Linked DNA regions of Homo sapiens: all the other regions are linked to region 1. The links come from fine-mapping of genetic effects on gene expression. A gene starts in region 1. Each other region holds a variant in brackets. All regions are shown on one strand. Distances are from middle to middle.

Region 1 (2,757 bases):
CGCAAACACACTCAGCTCCAGACTCCCACTCACTCACCCCCAGATGGCCCGCACGACGCGTGCTGGCTAACCCCCAAATCTCTACGACCCACGCTCGCTCGTCTCCAGACCCCACGAGGCACGCTCTTCTTCTCCAGGCTCTCTCGCACGCCTACTCCCCCGGACCTCCACGCAGAATCTCCCTTCCGCCACTCCAACCTGACAGTCTTCCAACACGCACAAGCACGCACAACTCCACACACACAACCCAGTCCGCACCCCCTCCCTGAGTACGAACCCCCGCCGCTCCATCCCCAAGTGACAGAGCCCCGGGGCGCAGAGAGGGCGGAAAGGGCGGCACTCACAGGCTCCGCGTCCAGGAGGGCAGGTCCCCGGGCAACGCAGCCAGCCCGCGCCCACCGCAGTCCAGCGAGTCCCCAGCGCAAGTGCAGGCGGCCGCGCAGGGCGCCCGCGGGCCGGCCGCGGCGGTCACCGGCTCCAGCCGAAGCAAAAGCAGCCAGAGAAGGAGAAGGCAAGGCGAGCGGCGCGGGGCCCCGAGCCCTCCCCGGACCGGCCGCGCCATCTTGTCTGGAGCGCGCTGCGAACTCCGGGCGCGGGGACTGTGAGGACCCGAACGGCCGCAGACGCGGGCGGGCCCGCGGGGCGCTCCGCTCGGCTCTAGACTCCGCACCGGGGCATGGCCCCCGCCCCAAGTTCTCTCTGCGGCCGCGGCTCCGGCACTCAGCGTGCCCCCGGTGCCCGGGCCGCTCCGGAGCACCCGGCGGGGGCCGCAAACCCCGCGCCCATCCGGGCCGGCCGGCCCGCCCGCGCTAGCTGCGAACTCCGCCGATTCGGGCAAGGTGTACCCAGCCTGCGCTCTTCGTCCGCCCGGGGCACGCCGAGTGCCGCTACCGACACCGGCCGAGGGCAGTGCTGCCGCTGCGCCTGGAAGACAGGCGTTCAGCCCCGCAGCCCGAGCTCGGTGCCGGCAGGCATCTTCCTCTGGGCTCGGAGCGCAAAGCCGTAGACCTCGGGCTGGACGGCGCGGCCGGCCCCGCGCTGGGAGGCCCCAGTGCGCCTCGCTGTCCCCACGCCGCGGCCAGAGAGCGCGCGCGCGCGCGCAGCCTCGGGTTCCGCACGGCTCCTCCGCGCAGCAAGAGTCCCGCCGACCTCGCAGCCGAACAATCAGCCGCTTGCTGTTCGCCTCCCCGCGGCCCAGCCCCGGCCGGTCCCCCAAGCCCCGCCCCCGGCCGCTCGCCCGCACACACCCCCTAGGCTCCGCGCTCCGCGGCCGCCTGCTGGCCCACGTTGGATGCTTTGCAACAGCGCCCCGCCACGCCTCCCCGCCTGCTGCTCATTGGCTGCCGGAGTCCACCGTGGCCAGCCTCGAGGGCCATTGGAGCGCTCGCTGTGATCCCGCCCCTCCCGCTTCACCGGCTACCCCGCCCCCACACTCTTTTCCCACCCAAGGTGTGAAGGGCGGGAGACTGGGAGGAGAAAGGGAGGGACGGCCCCCGCCTCTTAAAGGAGACACGCAGGTTGTTGTTGGAGAACGGGAACGCGGGCTGGGGAAAGGAGGCGTGAAGATACGCCCTCTGCGTCAAGAAGGGGAGAGAAAGTTAAGAGGGTAAAACGCCCCCGTTTTGGGGCTGTCTGGCCCCAAGGCTTTTTACGTCCTCCTCAGGCTGCAAGCAGGACTGCAGATTAGAAGCAAACCCGCGTCCGTTTTCCAGGTTCCTTCCAAAAGCGAAGACACAGGTTTAAAACTTAACACATTTCTTCCTGACTGGGACATCCTTGGTTATTTCATTAGGCGTGGTCCCCTTCCTCCTCGAGCAGCCTGGAGCATCTGCTCCTGACTTGTTCTTCACGTCCTAAATCCAGCAATATGTCCTTGATTACTAAAATGAATGTGTGCTGCAGAAACCTAGTCTCAAAGGTGCACCCTCGGCCAGGAGTGGTGGCTCACGCCTGTAATCCCAGCAGTTTGGCAGGCCAAGGCGGGCGGATCACCTGAGGTCAGGAATTCGAGACCAGCCTGGCCAACATGGTAAAACCCCGTCTGTACTAAAAATGAAAAATAAAAAAATTAGCCAGGTGTGGTGGTGCACACCTGTAATACCAGCTACGGGAGGCTGGGACAGGAGAGCTGCTTGAACCCCGGAGGCGGAGGCTGCAATGAGCAGAGACTTGTCACTGAATTGTCACTGAATTCCAGCCTGGGTGACAGAGCGAAACTCCGTCTCAAAAAAAAAAAAAAGTGCACTCTCCTTCCCAGCTAGTGAGTTGAAGGGTACTTCTAGAAATGCTGCAGCCTTTGATAAAGGGGTTGCTTTGTTGTTGTCATTGGGTTTTTGTTTTAATCAGAGTCTTTTTAAGATAATTTTCAAGAAGCCATTGTGTATTCGTAAGAGACAGAGTTAAAGGAGAAATAATAGTTAACAAAGCTTCTAACTTTTGCTCTTAAAGATCAGACCATAGTAGTAGTGTGTTACGATAGTACGTGGTAACATTAAGCAGACATACACACATTGAGAAAAAAAGAAAAAGATTACCACTGTAACATATAGCTGCCCTCTGGGCGTTTTGGTTTGCTAGTGTCTCATATCCCTTCCCAAGAGTATGCAAATTACTAACATAACTGCGCACATTGTCAGGAAGATTAAGCAGGTCAAGTCTGTTGAAAAACATTTGCTCCAGAACATTAAATCTGAGTTGTGTTTTATGGAAGTGGGGTGGGGTGGGAGGTAAAGAGGAGAAGTTGAACCTTAGGGAAAA
Region 2 (2,757 bases), 32 kb before region 1:
TCTCTCACTGTGAAGAGGAGCGCAACCCATGGCTCCATTTTTCAACATTAACAGAATAATTCAAAGTGGAAGGAATTGGTCCTAAATCCGTGACAAGCATTCCCTGAAGAATGAGGTTTTCATACTTGGTTTGGTTTCCAGGCTAGCCTATTTCCCATTACTCAATTCTGTCTGGACTCCTGAGCGCCACAGTATTTTGCATATTTTAAGCTTTCAGATGTTTGCTAAACTGCATTAATACAGCTGGAAAGTAAGTGTGAGGCAATCCAACAACCCAACTTCTGAGCACCAGTGGGCACCCAGCTCTGGCCTGGGAGCCGTGGGCTCTGGCGATTCATCTCTTTCTCAACCTCAGAACGTGCACTGTCAGCCACTCGTTAAAAAATTGCCTGCTTGGGACTCACCAGAAAAAGGTGGAAAAAGGTGATTCGTCCTTTCAAAATTTCAGCGGGTGCAAATAAGGAAGAACATGCAACAATGTTTAAGTTATTTAATCCTTTAAGCTTTTAAGACTGTTTCTGCTGCATTTTTACTTTCTGAGGAATTACATAGTACACATCAAGCTCCAATGAAATCACCACATTATGTTCCCATGTTGTAAGGTTTTATAAAAGAGAATAAGACTTCGTTCAAATCCCAGAATATTAGATGTTCTTACCTTTTTTTGTATTGTGATGCTTCCCCTTGTTAACCAAAAACCACAACTGAACAAGCGGATAATGCACATTAAAGGCTTATATTAAGATGACAAAATTGTATCTTGAACTGGAATCATTCCTCTAGTATCCTATCCAAGGATCTCCACTCAGGAGAAGGTTCTGTACTTGCTGCTACCTCTCTTCAGTAAGCTAAGCAGCCACATATTCCCTATGGCAAAAGAACATATTCTGCAAATAATCAAATGAAAAAAATCACTCAGATCTCAACATGATACAAATAGCTCATTTTGTAAGCTTTTGGGCAGTTGTATCTCACAAAGTCAGTAATGAGTCACCAGTTATTTCCATTTCTGAAAATTTTACATAGACCATTATCTATGCAAATAAGGGAAACCTACAGTGAC[T/C]CAAAATAGGAGATACTATATACATACAGCTATATATGGACCCAGACTCATTGCCTATTTTTACTCCTTAAAAATCAGCTATAATAATCAGTGTGGGCCTCTGAAGTCTAACGCCCGTGACGTTAACTGAGAGAAGAAACTCATGCCTACCTCTGTGATCCCATAAGGTCTTACATGTGCTTCTCGGCCTTACTAGTTCACACATGTCATCCTGGTCTGTAGCTAATTTGAGTACAAGTCTACATCTTTTCCCTCTAGCACCCAACAAATGTCAAATTTGACAAATATTTATTGTCTACAAGGTATACTGCACTGTGATAAACTGATAACAAATTAGGATAAGATCTAGTCTGTGACTTGAAGTGGTTTACAACCCACTGGTCAAGTTAAGACTCCTGGCCGGGTGTGGTGGTTCACGCCTATAAATCTCAGCACTTTCGGAGGCTAAAGTCGGGGAATCACTTTAGGCCTGGAATTTGAGACCAGCCTGGGCAACATAGTGAGACCCTGTCCCTACCAAAAAAAAAAAAAAAAAAAGAATACTGACCAAATAACACAGCCAAAGGCTCTGACACTTGCAAGCATTCTGTAATGGTAGATCAGTAGCTACAAATTGGTAGTTTGTGGGTACAAAGCTGGGCTGCAGGGAAACTTGCTTGTTTCTGACTGAACAGTGTTGGTAGAAACCTAAAGTTTTCACCAAAAACTAAAGTTTCAGCTTTTCTTGAAAATAATCGGAGGGCCAGCATTCCTAACAGAAACAATCAACTACATGCATTTACCAAGCATTCCAATGACCACAGACCTCACCACTCCTTATTGTCTCACCCATGCCCTCTTTATTCACCGGCAGTATCTTCCCAGCCCGAGATCTGAGTTTGTCATCCCTAGCATGGATAACATGAATGAAGGCCAGATGGCGTCCAGAGCAGGAAAGATCAGCTGTAATGAGAAACGTTTATTGAAAATGCAAGATTTCAGCTAAGCCTAGAAGAAGAGCATGTTTTTTTGAAGAGGAGTCCTGGGAAACGAGGCCAGAAAAGTAAAATAAGGAATGGAGGGCATGGAGTAAAATAAGCAAACAAAAAGGCCAAGAAGTCAGGACCTCCTAGAAAGGAAAGGGCAAGACACAAATGGTTTTACAGCAAAGTTGAGAAGAATAGCCCCATGCTGCCAGACCCACAACCCACCAGGCGGTTAAGTCAAGGGTTATATAAACCTTAGCAAACCCCAGTGCCAGGTCCCTCACGAACATTAATCTATGGGGCCATTAAAGTTGATTTCCATAAGAACAGAGTATCGCCTTGTTCATTTACTTAAAAGTTCTGAACTAGATAATCAAGAGGCCCAATTTGTTTTCTCACCATCACTGAAGGCAGTTAGCATTTGCTTTCTATACTACCCCTTAAAATGGGAGATTCTAGGATCTTTCCTACCAAAAATCTTAGTTTGGCCAAAAAGAAACAAAATAATTAGCTATAATGGGTTTTGTTTTGTTTTACTTTAAGCAGTCTCATCTTTAGTGCAGTTTAGTACTGAGGAAAGCCCACAAATTTCCCATAATAGTCTCTTGTTAATATGGTATGTGCATCATTAACCCCTAAAGATTAATTAATTTAATTAAGAAGAGGCGCTCCAACACACCAGCTCTGCAGTTGGTGGGGACTTTACAAGCAAAAGGAATTTGGGCAGGG
Region 3 (2,757 bases), 26 kb before region 1:
TTTTTCAACTGTGTGACATCACACCCACAGCTCACTAACATCTCTGTGAGGTCTCCTGGTGCCTGTGCAAAGCCCAAGCATCCAAAATCTATAAAGCTCATATAAAAATCCATGCTTACTTGCATTTGCCACAATGCTCGGCGTTACAAATGGATTAAGTACAAGGTTCCTTCCAATATTATTTTCTAGGTTTATCCTCTCTTTCTCAGCTGCCTCAAAACAATGCAGATCATACAAATACAGACAGCAGATCCCTGGTATTAAATCAGCCAAATTAGAAAAGCGAATTTACCCACAACTTTTCAAGAATACATCCGCTGTATTACAGGGAGGCACGCGACTATCTCTAGCTAAGTATTTTAAAGAAAACACACAGTTTTAAAAGGTCAGCCGTCTGGCCCACAGTGAAGTCACTGACTTTAATAGCTAGCTTATCGACTTGGGATCTCGTCCTGTTCACTTTTTCCACTGGGCTTCTTAAAGTTTACGTGTGTCATGAAATGCTTAGCTAAAGCCAAAAGGCTAAGTTTTTCTTTCTGCAGTACTAAGACGTCGTGAAACACTCTAAATTTAAAAGACCATCTACCACATCATTTTCCCTGTTTAGAGGCGTGGAGCAGTGATGATTTCCCTGGTTCTGGTTGTTGAAATGGCTGAGAAGACACGAAGTCAAGATTCAAAAACCACAAAGTATTTCAGCATGCATTATTGTACACAGACTATGCTGCTATTAAAACATGGAACTTCCTTTTCACTGAAATTACAAGCAGAAAATAGCAGATGCTGCATGCGACCTCCATCCTTGAACATACTAAAATTTTACTATGTCAAATGGAAAACTGGCTGTGAAAATGACTAGGCCACAACACACTTTTATTTCTTTTTTTTAAATCATTCGCCAAAGTCCCTAAAAACAATGCCTCACCTCTTCCACAAGGTCCATCTACGTTCTTTTTTTTTTTTTTTGAAATGGAGTTTCACTCTTGCCACACAGGCTGGAGTGCAATGGTGTGATCTCAGCTCACTGCAAACCCTGCCTCCCTGGTTCAAGTGATGCTCCTATCTCAGCCTCCTGAATAGCTGGGATTACAGGCGCCCGCCACTGCACCCAGCTAATTCTTGTATTTTTAGTAGAAACGGGGTTTCACCACATTGGCCAGGCTGGTCTTGAACTCCTGACCTCAGGTGATCCGCCCGCCTCGGCCTCCCAAAGTGCTGGGATTACAGGTGTCAGCCACAGCACCCGGCCCCATCTACATTCAATGTGGCTGGGTGCATCACCCCACCACACGCCTGTCCCCTCCCCAACCATCCCACTCCCATTTGCAGGTCCAGGTCATTTACTCACAAAGGATGTGTCTTACAGGGTGGACCCTAGCGGCAAATTCCACTTGCTAAACTGTATCTTAACCAAATAATGAATACTGGTACCTGTGGAATATGAGTTCTTTCTTTTAAAGCCAATCACCAGCAAAGGTGGT[T/C]AAGAGCCTTGTCAAAAGTCAATTATCAGTAAACTCTTTTTGGAGTTTCAGTTACAGGCAGAAATCTAAGAAACACCATGTGTACTTCTAGGTACTCCACAGCCTCTCTGTGCACTAGAGAGAGACAAGAGCCATTCAATTCACAGAGCATCTTCACATCCAAACAGAAAATCCAAGCCCACTGGTCATACCAAATTGAGACATCCACAAGATCAGCTACATTGAGGCAGCTGCCCTATGAAAACAGCTAGGACTTAGCCTAACACTTGCTATATAACGAACACACAATCTCCCAGGTTCTACCAATCACTCCTTTGACAAATCGAGGTTTGTCAAAGTCTCTGCCTAGCCTGTCCTAAATCAAGTGACTCCAACATGACTTCCCTCCAATAAACATGCTATCATTGGTAGGGAGGTAGAAGGGTGGAGAATGACTTGCGTCTGCATACTGCACACTAACAAAATTAAGTGGGTTTTGTTCTATGCCCTGAGATATAGGGAACCAAACAAAAGGTGGTGGTTGGGGGTGAGAGCAGTTTGCTGGAAAAGGCAGGCACTCAGCTATCAGATGCAACCTGTACTCCAGCTAAGTCTCCCCAAACTGGCTTTCCTTTCTCCTTACTCCCCACCACACTCAGTCCTGAAATATTATCAAAGTAAATAAAAGCTGTTCCAATCCCAGGTCTAGTCCGCATGGCTACACAAACATGACTCTGCGAAACTGTGCTGACAACTGCGTTTACTTGTGGCAAAGTGAACCAGGATCAATAAGCCAAAGTGGCTTTAGATTTGGTTAGGTTTAAGCTCACATAAGCACAGGGAGAAAACCATCCACTCTCAAAGAACTAGTGCAGAAAGCACCTGCACAAACTCGTCAGGATGGTTTATAAGGTCACAAGCACCTGAGAAAAGATCGTTTATTCCTAGGGGCATGAGACAAATGGTAGGCCTGCCCGTCACACTACTAGTGTCAATATTTATCTAAGGCCTGGGTATTCACGATGGTATAAACCAGGCACCTTTTCAATTCAGTTATTCACGTAATTCGCCACTACAAAGCCCCAAAACAGAGATTCTTTACAGCTTGATTTCTTTTCTTCCATTTCCATACACAGGGGGCTGGCTGCAGGACCCATGGTCTATGTCAGCAATAATCCCTGCAGCCTGGGAATAAAGCGTACAATGTATTTCAGAACTACCTATATCAAATGGCATTGCAACTGAGGACAATGAAGAGGTGGGGAAGGGAGACAGAGCACCTGCTTTCTTCCTTCCC

Alleles and levels. Alleles are on the strand shown, and positions count from the first base shown. SD is a standard deviation of normalised expression in the study named.
As copies of T replace C in region 2, the expression in monocytes after LPS of the gene that starts at base 1,177 in region 1 goes up (large effect, 1.0 SD a copy in Quach 2016).
For the expression in monocytes after Pam3CSK4 of the gene that starts at base 1,177 in region 1, T is the high allele of the variant in region 3 and C is the other (large effect, 0.84 SD a copy in Quach 2016).

What was found. PIP is the estimated chance that this variant, and not a neighbour inherited with it, causes the effect.
Region 2: its variant is the best candidate, but not a certain one, in a credible set for the expression of LRIG1 in monocytes after LPS (Quach 2016, PIP 0.64).
Region 3: its variant is the best candidate, but not a certain one, in a credible set for the expression of LRIG1 in monocytes after Pam3CSK4 (Quach 2016, PIP 0.69).

Annotation. Positions count from the first base shown.
Region 1 is chr3:66,499,846-66,502,602 of GRCh38, forward strand. It overlaps LRIG1 (leucine rich repeats and immunoglobulin like domains 1), which reads right to left and starts at 1,177. Exons shown (of 19, transcript NM_015541.3): 1 at 345-1,177. The coding sequence starts at 562. RefSeq lists enhancers at 273-773, 774-1,274 and silencers at 377-586, 607-686, 727-866, 887-1,546.
Region 2 is chr3:66,468,327-66,471,083 of GRCh38, forward strand. The region is part of intron 1 of LRIG1 (leucine rich repeats and immunoglobulin like domains 1); the gene reads right to left. Among named protein-coding and RNA genes, the nearest start is that of LRIG1, 31 kb to the right of the region's middle. The variant T/C (reference allele first, on the strand shown) is at 1,064.
Region 3 is chr3:66,473,397-66,476,153 of GRCh38, forward strand. The region is part of intron 1 of LRIG1 (leucine rich repeats and immunoglobulin like domains 1); the gene reads right to left. Among named protein-coding and RNA genes, the nearest start is that of LRIG1, 26 kb to the right of the region's middle. The variant T/C (reference allele first, on the strand shown) is at 1,482.